Homo sapiens: one gene and its partner. The protein of the gene in region 2 interacts with the protein of the main gene of each other region in a biochemical or structural test. Each region holds a gene or a part of one and is shown on either strand. Other genes may lie near its edges.

What was found. The genes of interacting proteins can lie anywhere in the genome.
Region 1: the proteins of TRIML1 (region 2) and USP5 form a complex in vitro, tested with the Homo sapiens proteins (one study listed by BioGRID).

Annotation. Positions count from the first base shown.
Region 1 is NC_000012.12:6,847,553-6,855,495, forward strand, and holds the start of USP5 (ubiquitin carboxyl-terminal hydrolase 5), read left to right. Parts: upstream 1-4,597; 5' UTR 4,598-4,627; coding exon 4,628-4,738; intron 4,739-7,802; exon of another isoform or gene 7,803-7,848; coding exon 7,849-7,943. Other genes in the region: CDCA3 (cell division cycle-associated protein 3), read right to left, coding at 1,491-1,646, 1,771-1,877, 2,013-2,306, 2,915-3,044, 3,281-3,400. UniProt on the Homo sapiens protein: Deubiquitinating enzyme that participates in a wide range of cellular processes by specifically cleaving isopeptide bonds between ubiquitin and substrate proteins or ubiquitin itself.
Region 2 is NC_000004.12:188,134,994-188,142,810, forward strand, and holds the start of TRIML1 (probable E3 ubiquitin-protein ligase TRIML1), read left to right. Parts: upstream 1-4,447; 5' UTR 4,448-4,565; coding exon 4,566-4,973; intron 4,974-5,534; coding exon 5,535-5,630; intron 5,631-7,258; coding exon 7,259-7,489; intron 7,490-7,817.

The DNA.
Region 1 (7,943 bases), on a different chromosome or scaffold from region 2:
CAGCAGGTGGCTGGGGGACTGTGTGCAGCAGTTCGCTATGGCCTGCCTGTGGTGCCCATGTGTTTGTACGGGAGGGTTAGCTTGAGAAGGAATCAGATTATAAAAGGTCTTGAATGTCAAGCCAGAGAGTCCAGACTTTTTCCTAAGGGCAATGAGAAGCCATTGAGGAGTTCTGAGCAGAGTAGTAACATGATCAGTTATGCTTCTCAGAAAGATTGCTCCAGATCTTTCAGAAAGAAGCAGTGTAGGTTGATGAAAGGGAGGGACTGGCACTGGGGAAACAAGGTAGGAGGCAGGTGGCAAGAAATGCAAGAGCGACAGGACAGAGGGGTTAGGGAGAGGGATTAGGAAGAGATTAAAGATGTGGAATCAGCTGGAACAGTGGCTCATGCCTGTAATCGCAGAGCCTTGGAAGGCTGAGGCAGAAGGATCTCTTGAGGTCTGGAGTTTGAGACAAGCCTGAGCAACATAGTAAGACCCTGTATCTACAAAAAAAATTAAAAATTACCTGGGCAGGCTGGGCATGGTGGCTCATGCCTGTAATCCCAGCACTTCAGGAGGCTGAGGCAGGCAGATCACTTGAGCCTAGGAGTTTGAAACCAGCCTGGGCAATATGGCAAGACCTCATCTCTATAAAAAAAATACAAAAATTAGCCAGGCGTGGTGGCTCATGCCTATAATCCCAGCTACTGGAGAGGCTGAGACAGGAGAATCGCTTGAGCTCAGGAAGTTGAGGCTGCAGTGAGCTGTGATCGTGCCACTGCACTCCAGCCTGGGTGACAAGAGCAAGACCCTGCCTCTAAAAAACAAGCAAACAAACAAAATGTGGAATCACCAGGATTTAGTGACCAAATGCTAGGATATAGGACATTGGGAGGGAAGGATTCGAGATAATGGCCAAGGTTTGGGTTTGGTGGCTGGGTAGATAATGCTGTCATTCACAAGGATAGGGAAGAGGGAATGAGGAATAGCTTTTGGGGGAAGATCATAAATTCAGTTTTAGACAAACTGACTTTGAAGTACTTATAAAGCAGCTGGATAAAGGTCAGGGTTAGAGAGAGAGACCTGAAAGTTACCAGAATATAGGGAAGTGATAGCTAAAGCCCTAGAAGTAAACACCCAGGGAGAGCAGGGCCAAGGACAGAGCCATAGGGACACCATGGTTAAAGGGAGATGTGCAAAGAAGGCTCAGAGCATCAGTGGGCTCAGGCCAGGGAACGCAAGCTCTCTAGGCCGCCATTCTACACACAGAAAACTCGGTGCAAGGTTTACATATACCTTTTTAAAGTAACATTTAAAATTACTTCCTTTAATATAAAAGAAACACACAAGACACAAAGAAAGCCCAATAAAGCTGTGAGTCCCAGTTTGGTAGCTGAGGAGGAGTCTAAGAAAACAAGCCATTCCTCAGTATCCCTGGGAAAGAAGGGGTGAGAGGACACAGATATCACCAGGCCCTGGGTGACTGCATTGCTGGGGCCATGCAGGGCCTAGCTCTCCACCAAGGGAAAGTGCTGATTTTCCTTGTCATGGTCCTGGCCTTGCTCCCATGCTCGTCCTCCAGTTTTCAGAAGTCGTCCAGTTCCAAGAATGGCTCCTTCCTTTAGTTCACTAACATTTTCACTTAGGGGTGAAGGCCGCTTACCCTGAAAACGGCAGTGTATGAGTTGGGGGGAGTTGCTGTTCAGAAGAGGGAAGATCTGGGTAAAAGGGTCTCCCACCCTCTACGTTGGATATCCTAGTAACAGCTTGCACTTTCTCTTCCTTTACCTGTCGTAGTGTCAGGGTGCCAGGGGAGTTGTCATCCTGCAGGATGGTGAGGGGGGATCTCCCTAGTACCTTGCTGCTGTTTGGTTTCCATCTATTGCGCATAGAACCTGGGGTGGGTAAGGCGTTAAAGCAAGGACCCAAAACTAGGACTTACAGTTTATTCCTCCCACACTCACCCATGGACCTTATCCCAAAACATTATCCTAGTTTATCTTCCCTGCATCTTGCCTTAGATTCTGTACCTGAAGATCTGGGAGTCTCAGGGTCCCTTGAGGGCTTGTCGGAGCTCTGGCTGGCCACAGGGGTTTCTGTGGGCTGTCTTGCTTCCTCCTTGGAAAACACCTGTTTGGAGGGGAACTCAGTCTGGTTCCAAGGTGGCATCTGTTCCTCAACAGATAACTGGGTACCCAGAGGCAAGTCCAATTCAGAAGATAAAGGTGCCTCTGGGGGCAGAACAGGCTCTGGGGGAAGATTTGATTTAGAGTCTTCAGTTTCAAATACTTCACTCAGCTGTTTCACCAGTGGGCTTGGGGGGTCTAGAGGAAGAAAGTGAAGTGAACAGTGACCTTCTGATACACAACATTCAGCAAGGAGCAAAACATACAGAAACCCAGGACTCATGCCCAGGAGGGTGAGCAAGTGGGAAGAGAGAAATCAAGGAAATCAAGGTGAAAGGGAGCAATTTTTTTTTTTTTTGAGATGGGGCTTGCTCTGTCCCCCAGGCTGGAGTGCAGTGGCGTGATCACAGTTCACTGCAGCCTTGACCTTGTGGGCTCAAGCAATCCTCCCACTTCAGCCTCCTGAGTAGCTGGGATCACAGGCCCATGCCACCGTGCTTTTGTGTGTGTGTGTGTGTGTTATGTGTGTGTATTTTTTCTAGAGATGGGGTTTTGCCATGTTGCCTAGGCTGGTCTTGAACTCCTGGGCTCAAGCGATCTGACCACCCCGGCCTTCCAACGTGCTGGGATTACAGGCATGAGCCACCGCACCCAGGCTGGGAACAAAATATTGAGATAAGAGTGAGATGGGTCCGAAGCAGGAGGATAGAGGCCCCTTTAAGGAACCCTGAGAGAATGGCTTCATGGACCCTACCCAAGAATAATAGATGACAGCTTCATCAGCATTCCCTGGGCCCAACGCTTACCTCCACTGCTGGTCTTCATAGGTGTCCGTGCAATACCAAGAGTAGGAGAGCGGGGATCTGAGTCCTGGGCATGTTTAAGACCCTCCAGTTGCTCCCCTGCTGGTAGGCCTGGCTGTGGAGAGCTCTCCACCTGTCAAGACCATAGGCTAGAACAAGTCTGGGCCCTGACTCTTCTCTCCTCTCCTCCCCATATTCCAGGAAGGAATTGCCAAGGCCCTCAGATATCCAGCCTACCCCACACAGATTGAGATTGCAGAAAATAAGGCTAGGATAAGGGTGGGGTCATGACGGCTCTCTCAAAATCAGGTTAGGAAGAGACCCAAGAATTCAGACATTCTCTGCCTTTCCCACGCTGGCCCAGAGTACCTGGATGGGAGTGCGCAGGATGCCAGCACTAGGTGAACGGGGGTCCGCCACTCGAGCCAGATGCTTGTTGTGCGGCGGAGGCCGCGCTGGTGTGACTGGGACGCTCTTGGCTGAGCCCATCTCAACCAGGAGTTGCAGGGTGGGGGCAAGGGCCAGCCCGGGACGAGGAGGGAATGCCTGTGAGAAGTGACTCAGGTCTCAGCCCTTATCTCTTCCACGTCGGACCTTCAACCCTAAACCACCCTGTCTTCCCAGTTTCCAGTGAAGAAACTTCCTGGCGAGGGACCAGAGGCCTCTGCGGAGTTAATGACTGCTGCAGCTGACAAAATGGCTCGTTCTGGGCCTGCTGAGCCCTCTAACTTATTTATTAAATTATTCAAATCACTTACCGGGCCCCAATTCCACCTCTGGATGCACAACAGCTCGTGGCTCAACTCCCGAAGTTACCAGTTTCAAACTTCCCGCCACGCCCCCTGCCCTGACCCTATTGGCTGAGCCGACGTAGTTCCCATAGGCCCTCCACGTAAGACCCGCCTCGAGCCAAAGGAAGCTGTTGGTCTGGGAGAACGTCTATCATGGTGACTGTAGGTGTCAATGGACTGATGCTAGGCTTGCCCAGGGGTGACGCCTCCTTGATAAGGGTACTTCTGTTCAGTATCGGCCTGCGAGCCGTCCGTGGCAGGCTGAGGAGTGCCAGTCTTCGCTTTCGAGACGTCTAGTCTCAAGAACGAATTATTAAACAAAATAGAATCATGAGTGATTACACTATTATGCGCACATCCAGCTGGAGTTGTGATGGTTTTCCTGAGGCGAGCGATAGTAGCTTTATTGGTTGACAGCTGTATCAGTCACTCGACACAACCCCCTCAAGCTCCGCCTCACTGGATACCCCCTTTACAAATACCAAGACAACTGTCCCTCGACTTTCCGACCGGACAGGTCCCCAGGAAACTTTCTGGAATTGAGAGGCCTAAAACAACCGTCAGTTCCTGCTCTTCAATAGAAGGCACGCGAATGGACTCTAAGGGTCCCGGAGCCGGAGCAGCTGCGGAGCCGCAGCAGCTGCAACCCCGAAGCCCACCTAGCTGCTCTACGTGCGCTCCCGCCCTGGAGGAGTGGGATTGGTTCTTTCAACCATCAATTGCCTTAGGAGCGCTTCTCATTGGCGTCAGTCAAGCGCGGGGCAGGGGCGGAGCACCGGCAGGCAGGCTCCGTCCAACTGCCATTCTCGCGCGTCGTCTCCGCGGCGCATGCCCCTAACGAGTGGCGCTCATTGGACGGGAGGGGCAGGGGAGGGGACTGGGAACGGTGGGAGCCGCCGTGTGTGGAGAAGCTGCTGCCGGTGTCATGGCGGAGCTGAGTGAGGAGGCGCTGCTGTCAGTATTACCGACGATCCGGGTCCCTAAGGCTGGAGACCGGGTCCACAAAGACGAGTGCGCCTTCTCCTTCGACACGCCGGTAAGCCCATTCCCCACGCCCGCAACGAGCACGACTTCCTTCCATCGCCCTGGTCATTCCGCTGGGGCCTGCAAGGCTTGGGCTACCGCCTCCCTGCGATGCACCATGGGACTTGTAGTCTCCCACGCTCCACTCTGCCGTTGCCTTTCATTAACTGCGGCTGTCGTGTGACTACCGTCCCCGGAAGCCGCCGCGCTCACCTCTCCGGCTCCCCGCTTCGTGGAGCACTGTGGGCATTGTAGTCACTCACTGCCTTCGTTGCCGTTCTAAGCTAGGGGCGCAGCCCGACCGTCGGACTACATCCCCCAAGTGGACCCTTGAGAAAACCTGGCAGTCGGCCTTGTCTGCCGCGCACGGCTCTCCGGGTTTTGTAGTCTCGTGTAGGAGTGATGGGGACGACTCCCCACTGTTCTCGGCCGGGGTTGGAGTTGGGGGGTGGGGACCGCAGTTCCTAGGCGGTTAATAGTCTGGGAGTGGACTCTCAAGAAGTCCGATTCTGAGAAAGGCAGAGAGCCTCCACCCCGTGGTTAAAACAGACAGGGGGCGGGGAGGGGAGGAAAGAGGAGAGGAAAGCTCTAGTCGTTTCTCCTTTGAAGTGAGCAATGGCCGCAGCCCCCACCCTTCCCCCCGCCCCCCAGCCTATCACAGACAGCTGAGATAACCCCTTTTAAAGTATTCCTAGAGAGGTGGTTTCTTTCTCGGAGGATGCTAAGGCCTCTTTCCCATCCCGCTCCCACTCTTGGCTAGTTACACAAAGCCACCTCCCACACCATGCTTCACGTTTTGCAGGCTCCACCTGGTACCTCCCTTCCTGCAGTTCTGCCTTCCCTATGTCACCCTCAAGCGGAGGCCCTTTGGGGCCTGAACTGAGAAGGCAGCAGCTTGGTTGGGATCCGCCCCCCTCACCACCCCTCCCCTCAAGCTGCTGTGCCCTGCCCAGTGTATTCTGCCAGAACCAGCTCATGGCCTGAAAACTGCAAGTCAGAGTGGAAAGCCTTCATTACTGCATCACCAGTACTGAGTAGAACAGCATGATGTGAGGCCCAGTTCAGGATCATCACTGTGATTTGTGGTTTGCTTGGTTTGCTAGGCTTTGATCTGGGCCTCAGACAATGTGCTGCTTCTCTGAAGTCTGGCTTTGGCAGAGGTAAAAGAGCACTGCGCGGAGCAGAGCTCCGGGGTTCCCAATCCTTGGTGAAATCAGCATCTTTAATTTCCAACAGAGGAGTTTAATCACTTCAGAGCTCCCACATTCTTCCCAGGAGGGAAAGGTTTTTCTTAAATTACCAGCAGGTGGTAGAAGTCAGTGGGTCCCTCTTTACACTTTTATTCACTCCTGTCTCTCTCCTTAGTAACTGCTTTGAATAATCCAAAAAGGGTTTTTGTAATCTTCTGAAACTTTCCCTTTTTCACCCCAAGTCAAGAGATTTTCAGTGTGCCCTAGTTCTTTGCTAACCAACTTCCAGCATATTTGGTTACCTTCAAATTGGGCTCATGGTAGAAAGAGCTTAGTTGACCTCCCCGGTGAGAAATGCTCTATTTGTTCATGAACTTGCAGTACACACTGTTCCTAGGAAGTGGTACAGAGCAATCTATGGGACCAAGAACTACCTTAGACAGTGCACTATTTTTCATATCACAGCAGAGAAATGTTCAAGGCCACTGAGACTTTTATTCCTGGAAGAGGATGTCTGTTGTTGCTCAAAGCCTTGGATCTGAGGGAAGACCCTTATTGTCTCCAATTTCCTCCTCCACCTTCTCCATCACTCTTTACAAAGGCACTGGAAAACTTGGTCAGCTTTGGGGGAAGCCCATCCTCCCTTCTCAGCTGTGTTTCTGGGTGGACACCCGTCTGTCCCTGTTTTCACGGGTTATGTGTGTTCTAGCTATCTCAGCAAGTGTTGCGAGATTGTTGTCAGAACGGGATGGCTTTGAGATTGGTGATTTGTTGGGACTTCAGCAGGGATCTTATTGGTCGGAGGGGAGGCAGAGGAGAGAGGGTGGTGGCTATGGAATGCTGGACTTCATGACCCTGCCAGACTGGGTGCATGTTTAGCTGTGAGTCCCTAACAAGTCATTGTTCCCCTGGAAGCCACACTTCAGCAGGAGAGGAGGGAGAAGACTCACAGTGTGGACCAGGGTTCGACTACCTGGTAGAATGTGGTAAAAGAAAGGTCTTTTTCGCTGGATGTTTAGTCTCACCGCTGTAATCCCAGCACTTTGGGAGGCCAAGGTGGAAGGATTGTTTGAGGCCACACAAGTTAAAGACCAGCCTAAGCAACATAGCGAGACCCCACCTCTAAAAAAAAAAAAAAAAAAAATCTAGGCATGGTGGCATGTGCCTGTAGTCCCAGCTCCTTTGGAGACTGAGGCAGAAGGATCACTTGAGCCGGGGAGGTTGAGGCTGCAGTGAGCTATGATCGTGCCACTGCACTCCAGCCTGGGTGACAGAGTGCAGTGTCTCTAAAATAAAATTTTTTTTTTTTTTAAAGGAAAGGTAATTTTGCTTGCTGGCACACTCGGGTCAGATATACTGTTCAAGTGCTGGAATCTCTGCTCCTCTGGTCTGGAAGGTTTTCTGAATCATGGAGATGAGATAGGGTTTGTCTTAGGTGTCCCCTGGTTTGGGTTCAGTGTCTCACATGAAAGTCTTTCCTCTCCCACGAAGGGACCCTTTTTCCCTTTGAATGTAATCTCCAGCACTGGAAGTCCACAGTATTTGATCCCCATTTACTTTCTGGATCTGTTAGCCCCAGGATAGAGGTGAAGGAAGTCCTCTGTGATTGATTAAAGAGCTCCAAAGCCCAAGAAGGAGCAGGTGGAAAGATAAATGGTGACTGGTGTTGCTGTTGAATGGCGACGATGAGCTGGTGTTCCTCAGCCCCCTGATGTCCTTGTTGGTTGTTATCAAAGTCATGGGAGGAAATGGGGAGAATCTTAGCTATGTCCCAGGTCCTAAAAGGCTAAATAACTTGCCAAGGGCCACACAGTGTTAGAGAACAGAACATTTCTTCTGGAACCCAGCAGTTTCTGACTCCAGGTTTTGGTTTCCTCACCTGACCAGGCTTCATAACATCCTCGTGTTTTCACCCTTACCTCTTGTCCCACAGGAGTCTGAGGGGGGCCTCTACATCTGTATGAACACGTTTCTGGGCTTTGGGAAACAGTATGTGGAGAGACATTTCAATAAGACCGGCCAGCGAGT
Region 2 (7,817 bases):
ACATATATCCTGTATTTATCTACCTGGAATATACTTCGGTATAAGTTGCTGGGTAGAGATCAACTGAATTTATTTTTCCAGATGACTCCCTGACTTTCCCTAAACTGTGTGTTGAGTAACCTATCTTTTCCAGACTGGCATGAAATGACAGATATACAGAGGACCCTTGAACAACCTGGGTTTGAACTCCTCAACATGGACACTTATACACGGATTTTTCTCAATAAAAGTGACACCAAGAATGCCTGCCTCTCCTGCTCAGCCTTCCACTTCCTCTACCTATCTGGCCTCTGCCACCCCTGAGACAGCGAGACCAGCCCTCCCACCCCCACCTCCTCCTCCTCAGCCTACTCAAAGTGGTAACGACAAGGGTGAAGACCTTTATGAGGATCCGCTTTCACTTAGTGAATAGATTTTCTCGTAATAACATTTTCTTTTCTCTAGCTTATTTGATAAGAATAAAATAATACATGTAACAAAAAAATATATTAATTGACTGTTTCTGTTATTGATAAGGCTTGGTCAACAGTAGACTATTAGTAGTTAATGTTCTAGGAAAGTTAAAGTGTATTTTTGACTGTGCAAGGGGTCAGCACCTGTAACCCCTGCATTGCTCAAGGGTCAATTGTATTTTTTTAATCTCGCTCTGTGCCCAGGCTGGAGTGCACCGGTGATCATGTCTCACTGCTGGCTTCGTCTCCTGGGTTCAAGTGATTCTCGTGCCTCAGCGCCGAGTAGCTGGGATTACAGGCACCCGCCATCACGCCCGGCTAATTTTTGTATTTTTGTAGAGACAGGGTTTCACCATATTGGCCAGGCTGGTCTTGAACTCCTGACCTCAGGTGATCCACCTGCCTTGGCCTCCCAAAGTGCTGGGATTACTGGGGTAAGCCACTGGGCCTGGCTAACTTTATTTTTAAAGCTAGGCTTTCAAGCAATGTATTTTTCAAATAAGCTCCCAACTAGTCCACCGCCTCATCAACAAATAAGCCCTTACTGTATCTATAAAGTTCATTTTTTTCTGCATGTGCCAACCCTGATGGCATCTGGGTGATAGTTGTGACAGTGACCCTCTTGGAGTACTCCTAGCATCACCCTCTCAGGAGAGAAAGGCCAGAGAAGAAGCTACTTGAGTTGTTGATCTCAGAAGCCGTGTCTGGTAGTGTGATTGGGTCATATATTTTGGGAAGGCTGGTCTATTCTATGAATGCATTTCATCTATGAATTAAGCCCAAGCAAAATGTTGAGAAAGATGGTAAGGAAGTCTGCCTTCCCAAGAGTGAATGTGGTCAGTGATTTCAGATGCCTGTCACACCATCACTCCATAATGACAGCTGTCTGACTTCCTTCTCACAGCAATTGGACAATGTTCATTTTTTTTTTTGAGATGGAGTCTTGCTCTGTCTCCCAGGCTGGAGTGCAGTGGAGCGATCTCGGCTCTCTGCAAGCTCCGCCTCCCGGGTTCACGCCATTCTCCTGTCTTAGTCTCCCTAGTAGCTGGGACTACAGGTTCCCACCACCACATCCGGCTAATTTTTTGTATTTTTTTAGTAGAGATGGGGTTTCACCGTGTTAGCCAGGATGGTCTAGATCTCCGGACCTCGTGATCCACCTGCCTTGGCCTCCCAAAATGCTGGGATTACAGGTGTGAGCCACCGCGCCTGGCCTGCAATGTTCATTTTATTGAGATAACTGGAAATTTTCACCCACTCACAAGTCAACAAGTGGATGCAGTATAGTGTGTTGACAAAAGAGAAAGACTGGGAGGTAGGCGCTCCAGTTTCCTAGTCCTAATCCGGCGTATGTGGTAAGTGAGTATCAGGAGATGAATTTAATTTATTCTAGCCTCAGTTTTCCTCAGCATCTGTAGAAGGTAGTTGGACTATATGATCTCTTGACTTCCAGCTAAATATAAGACTATGATTCCATAATAATATAGTTCCTCTATTCATTTATAACTCATTAACAGAAAAATCGAGCCACGTGCAAAGAATTCTTGTAGTCATCAATGAATAACACGTGGTTATTGTGTTACGATGCCTATAAAATAAAAAAAATTATCTGGAAGAGGGAAACGGGATAGAGCAGATCAGTGTGACTTGAACAGAGACTATGCCAGCCTCCCTATTCCAAATTGGAATACTGGCTCTGTGATGTGCTATAACTGTATTGTGAGGCTTATTCTAATGATTTTGGTAAATGTTAAAGACTCCTCCTGGGGTTGTGTTGAAATAACACACTGAATGGAGATGGTAGTTCATAAATTCTTTTTCTAGTGGTGGCAGTTAGTGTTATTGTAGTCTTTTTTTTTTTTTTTTTTTTTTTTTGAGATGGGATCTTTCTCTGTCTCCCAAGCTGGAGTGCAGTGGTGGGATCTTGGCTCACTGCAACCTCCACCTCTTGGGTTCAAGTGATTCTCCTGCCTCAGCCTCCCAAGTAGCTGGGATTACAGGCGTGCAACACCACACCCAGCTATTTTTACTTTTTTTTTTTTTTTTTTTGAGACAGAGTTTCGCTTTTGTTGCCCAGGCTGGAGTGCAATGGCGTGATCTCACCTCACTGCAACCTCCACCTCCTGGGTTCAAGCAATTCTTCTGTCTCAGCCTCCTGACTAGCTGGGATTACAGGCATGTGCCACCATGCCCGGCTAATTTTGTATTTTTAGTAGAGACGGAGTTTCTCCATGTTGGCCAGGCTGGTCTCGAACTCCCGACCTCAAGTGATCTGCCTGCCTCAGCCTCCCAAAGTGCTGGGATTACAGGCATGAACCACTGCACCCGGCCTAATTTTCATATTTTTAGTAGAGACGGAGTTTCACCATGTTGGCCAGGCTGGTCTTAAACTCCTGACCTCAAGTGATCCACCCACCTCGGCCTCCCAAACTGCTGGGATTACAGATGTGAGCAACCGCGCCTGGCCAAACTTTTTTTCTTTTTTTTTTTAAGACTCTTACAAGACTAACTCATAGCAATATTCTGAAGCTGTGACAAGTTAGTATCCTGGAGGCTATCTTGGTAGAGGTTTCATGATGCCACCCTGATGCCACCTCTCTTCCTCTTTACAGTAGTATAACTCTTTGCTCTTATTTTTTCATAGCTTAAATTCTCATCCTAGCAATTCACGTATGCTTTACAAGGGATGTATAGGATTGAAACATTTTGAATTAATGATTTCAGAAAGGTGAGTTTTGACTAGGAGAAAGGAAGGTGGAGGAAAAAACATTCTCAGCCAGAAAACTTCTTTTTCCCAAAGTTCAAGATAAGAAAACATCCAACATCCTGTTGGAGGTAAGTGGGAAAGAAGTAGCAGTTGGAGCCTTGAAAGTCAGAAACCAATGAACGGAACAGCCTGAGTAATGGACCCGACTCGTGGAAGGCTGCCAAGCTGGAGAGTGAGGGGACGGAGACAGAAATATGGCGTGATGAGTTCGTGGGAAGGTCAAACTCGCTGGCCTTTGAGGAAGAGCTTTTGAGGTGCAACTTCCTGGCATGCAGTGAGCAGAAGGCAGGCCAGGACAGGAGCTGACTCCCGAGCAGGGGACACAGTGAATTTGTGGCATTTGTTACCAATCTCGGAGTTCACTGTGCACAGTCTCCACACTAGGCATTTACTTTTTCATATGTCCGAAAAAATGTCTGCACACTTCATTTCTGTCCAGTAAGAACTGATAATCAGGGATTTGAAGGGGCCTAGTTTGGAAATTTTCAATGGGTGAAAATAAGTGAGCAAAATTACATTTATACTAAAATATAATTCTTTCCATCTGCTCCATAGTGGGATAGCCTCTTGAGGCAACTTCCAATTAGAATGTCATTTTAGATGCTTTCCAAGATGGCAGATGGGTGAGTACTAGGGTGTGCAGGGAAGATCAATAAACAGCTCTGGCAATTCATCGTGCGCCTAACACCAAGGAATACTTCAGTGGAAGAGCTCTCATTTTGTTGGGATGAATAAAATTAAATAAAAGTACACAGTACCCAATAAAGGAACAAAAGCTTAGGCTTTGGTCAAGCAGAACAAAAGGGGCTAATGAGAAAAGGACTATGTATTACAGTTTTCTTCTCTCAGTTCTCAACTAGGTTTTATTAGTGGAGTTCCCAAAAGATTTGGACCAAATTTCCAATTCAGATATTATTAGAGATCATCAAAACTCAAATCTCTTTACTGGTTTACACCAAATCACCCAAGCTTCCAGCCTAAAACCCACATGCTCACATGGTTCCACAGTGCTGTTTATGTACAATAACCAGTTCTCAAAATGGTAATCCTGTTAGAAGCCAGAATCCTCAGCCTCTAGCATGTGTGCTTTTCACAGAGATAAGTCTCAAAGTTTGGGGTTGGTGAGGAGCCCAGTATACAGGAGTTCCACATTAAGTCATAATTGGCTTTGTGTTGGACAGTGTATGTCAGCTGGTGAAATCAGGCACAGAAGAGATAAGGGTTTCTTGTCATAACAACATAGGAACAGGTCACCCGCGTGTTACTCAAAACTGTAGGACGGCAGTGAGGGCTTTGCTAATCCCAGAACAGAGGTGTAACCTGGCTGCATATCCAGCCTCGAGAAAATGTCTACAGCAGATCTGATGGAGAACCTCAGGGAGGAACTCACCTGTTTCATCTGCTTAGACTATTTCAGCAGCCCAGTGACCACCGAGTGTGGGCACAGCTTTTGTCTGGTGTGTCTCCTCAGGAGCTGGGAGGAACATAACACACCTTTATCTTGTCCTGAGTGCTGGAGGACCTTGGAGGGCCCGCATTTCCAGTCAAACGAGCGTCTGGGGAGGCTGGCCAGCATCGCCAGGCAGCTCCGGTCCCAGGTGCTGCAGAGCGAGGATGAGCAGGGCAGCTACGGGAGGATGCCCACCACTGCCAAGGCGCTCTCCGATGACGAGCAGGGTGGAAGCGCCTTCGTAGCCCAGAGCCATGGTGCAAACAGAGTGCATCTCTCCAGCGAGGCTGAGGAGCATCACAGAGTAAGACAGCTGCTCAGCATGAACCCCACGACTCATCGCAGCTAACTCCGTTAGCTTTCCTGACGTTTCCTAACGTCCTCTGTGGGGGACAGTCACGAGGGCCCATCTGAGCACCACATCACAAACTGGCGTGGGTCCAGTTTACACCCTTTTTTTTCCCTTTTTTTGTTTTTGAGACAGAGTTTTGCTCTGTTGCCCAGGCTGGAGTGCAGCAGTGCGATCTCAGTCACTGCAACCTCCGCCTCCCAGGTTCACGCCATTCTCCTGCCTCAGCCTCCCCAGTAGCTGGGACTACAGTCACCCACCACCACGCCCGGCTAATTTTTTGTATTTTTAATAGAGACGGGGTTTCACCATGTTGGCCAGGCTGGTCTTGAACTCCTGACCTCAGGTGATCCGCCTGCCTCGGCCTCCCAAAGTGCTGGGATTACAGGCGTGAGGCGCCGCACCCAGCCTGCCCTTTGTTTTAGAGGCCTAGGACTGCGCAGTTACTGGTCTTCAAAGCCCCTTCATGACCTGGGACTCTGCTCATTTGCCAGAAAGGGTTTGTTTCTATTGCAGGAGAAACTCCAGGAAATCCTGAATCTTTTGCGTGTAAGGAGAAAGGAAGCTCAGGCTGTACTAACCCATGAGAAGGAGAGAGTGAAACTGTGCCAGGTCGGTGTCTGTCTGACTTTTGCTGCTTGTATATGACCCCATAAGGGGGACTAAAGGGAAATTTAGTGAAATATCAGGAAAAAAAAAAGACAAATTTTTCCAGTCTCACCTCTAAAATATGCAGTTTCCTTGCATTGGGCTGCCTTCTTCTGAGCGTCCTCGTGGGAGTCTCAAGGCTCAGCTGCAATTCGCCCCCTCTAGGAGCCTCCTTTGCATAACTAGACAACGCTGTGGCTTCCTCTATGATGGCTCTGGTAGAATTATTTAAAACACAAGTGATACTTATAGACATGTAACATGAGACGGAAAGCGATTTTAAAAAGAAATATCTCAAAAACATGGAGGGGAAAATGCAAATTAAAAAAAATAAAGAGACAGAGATATAAAAGCAAAATAGTGGTTTAAATGATACCTGACAAGTCCTCAAGGTTGGTCACGGACTTGGATTTGAGCTCTCCAGCAGTCAAAGCAAAGGACTAAATATCAAATTATATATTTTTTAAAACCATGTATCTGATTCTCCCAATAGACTTTGAAATCTGTTTTTTTTTTTTTTTTTTTGGAGATGGAGTCTCTCTCTGTCGCCCAGGCTGGAGTGCAGTGGCGCGATCCCGGCTCACTGCAACCTCCACCTCCCGGGTTCAAGTGATTCTCCTGCCTCAGCCTTCTGAGTAGCTGGGATTACAGACGTGTGCCACCATGCCCAGCTAATTTTGTATATTTGTGGAGATGGGGTTTTACCATGTTAGCCAGGCTGATCTCGAACTCCCGACCTCAGGTAATCCACCTGTCTCGGTCTCCCAAAGTGCTGGGATTACAGGTGTGAGCCACCGTGCTTGGCCGTAGACTTTGAATTCTTAAGTGAGAGTATTTGCCATGTATGTTTCTGTTCCTTTTTGGTTATCTGACACCTACTTTCATTGAATAAATATTTGTTGAATAAATGAACACACATTTTTCATAATTTTTCTTAATTTTGTTTTATTTGTATCATAGTCCTGATCACTACTTGTCATATTTCTTACTCATTTTTGGTTTTCTCCACTAGAACGACCGCCTCCTGGGAATGGAGATTTTGGTTTTGTTTACTATTGTATCTATAGCGCACATACCTCCGAAAACATCAACCTCTACACCCAGCGCATCAACAGATTAAATGTATTATATGTTGGATTTCAGGAATTGTTGCCATGAAACTCTAGGACTTGGCCAGGCATGGTGGCCCACACCTGTAATCCCAGCACTTTGGGAGGCTGAGGAGGGTGGGTCACCCGGTCAAGAGACTTGAGACAATCCTGACCAACATGGTGAAACCCCATCTTTACTAAAAATACAAAAATTAGCTGGGCGTGGTGGCACACTCCTAGACTATAGTCCCAGCTACTCAGGAGGCTGAGGCAGGAGAATCATTTGAACTCAGGAGGCAGAGGTTGCAGTGAGCCGAGATTGCGCCACTGCACTTCAGACTGGCGACAGAGTGAGACTCCATCTCAAAAAAAAAAAAAAAAAGAAAGAAAGAAACTCTAGGACTTGTAAGGATTAAAAATCTACAGACAAGGGCATTTCTCTTACTAACTTTATCTCGTGTGTGTGTGTGTGTGTGTGTGTGTGTGTGTGTGTTTTGGCAGGAAGAAACAAAGACTTGTAAACAGGTTGTTGTGTCAGAATACATGAAAATGCACCAGTTCCTGAAGGAAGAGGAGCAGCTGCAACTCCAGCTACTAGAACAGGAAGAGAAAGAGAACATGAGGAAGCTGAGGAACAATGAGATCAAACTGACCCAGCAAATCAGAAGCCTAAGCAAAATGATCGCACAGATTGAGTCCTCAAGTCAAAGCTCGGCTTTCGAATCTCTTGAGGTGAGAATAACATTCATGAGAGTAATGGGAAAAATTATAGTAACTCATAGTACTTCAAGCCATAGGAAATAATGTTTTCTTTATTCATCTTAAAAACTAAGTTCTGGTCCAAAAGTAGTTTTCCTAAAGAATTGACATTCTATATGTCAATAAAGCCTTATAGAAGAGAGAGAGAGAGAAAAAAAAAAACACATCCAGAGGAATAACTATCCCAAACAAGCCTGAGAGTGGCTTCAATTTCTTCTGTACCTGCCTCTCTGCAACCTCAGCTTTGTTAATTTTTTTTTCTAGTTTATTAATGTGTATTTACTATGTGCTGGGCACATTA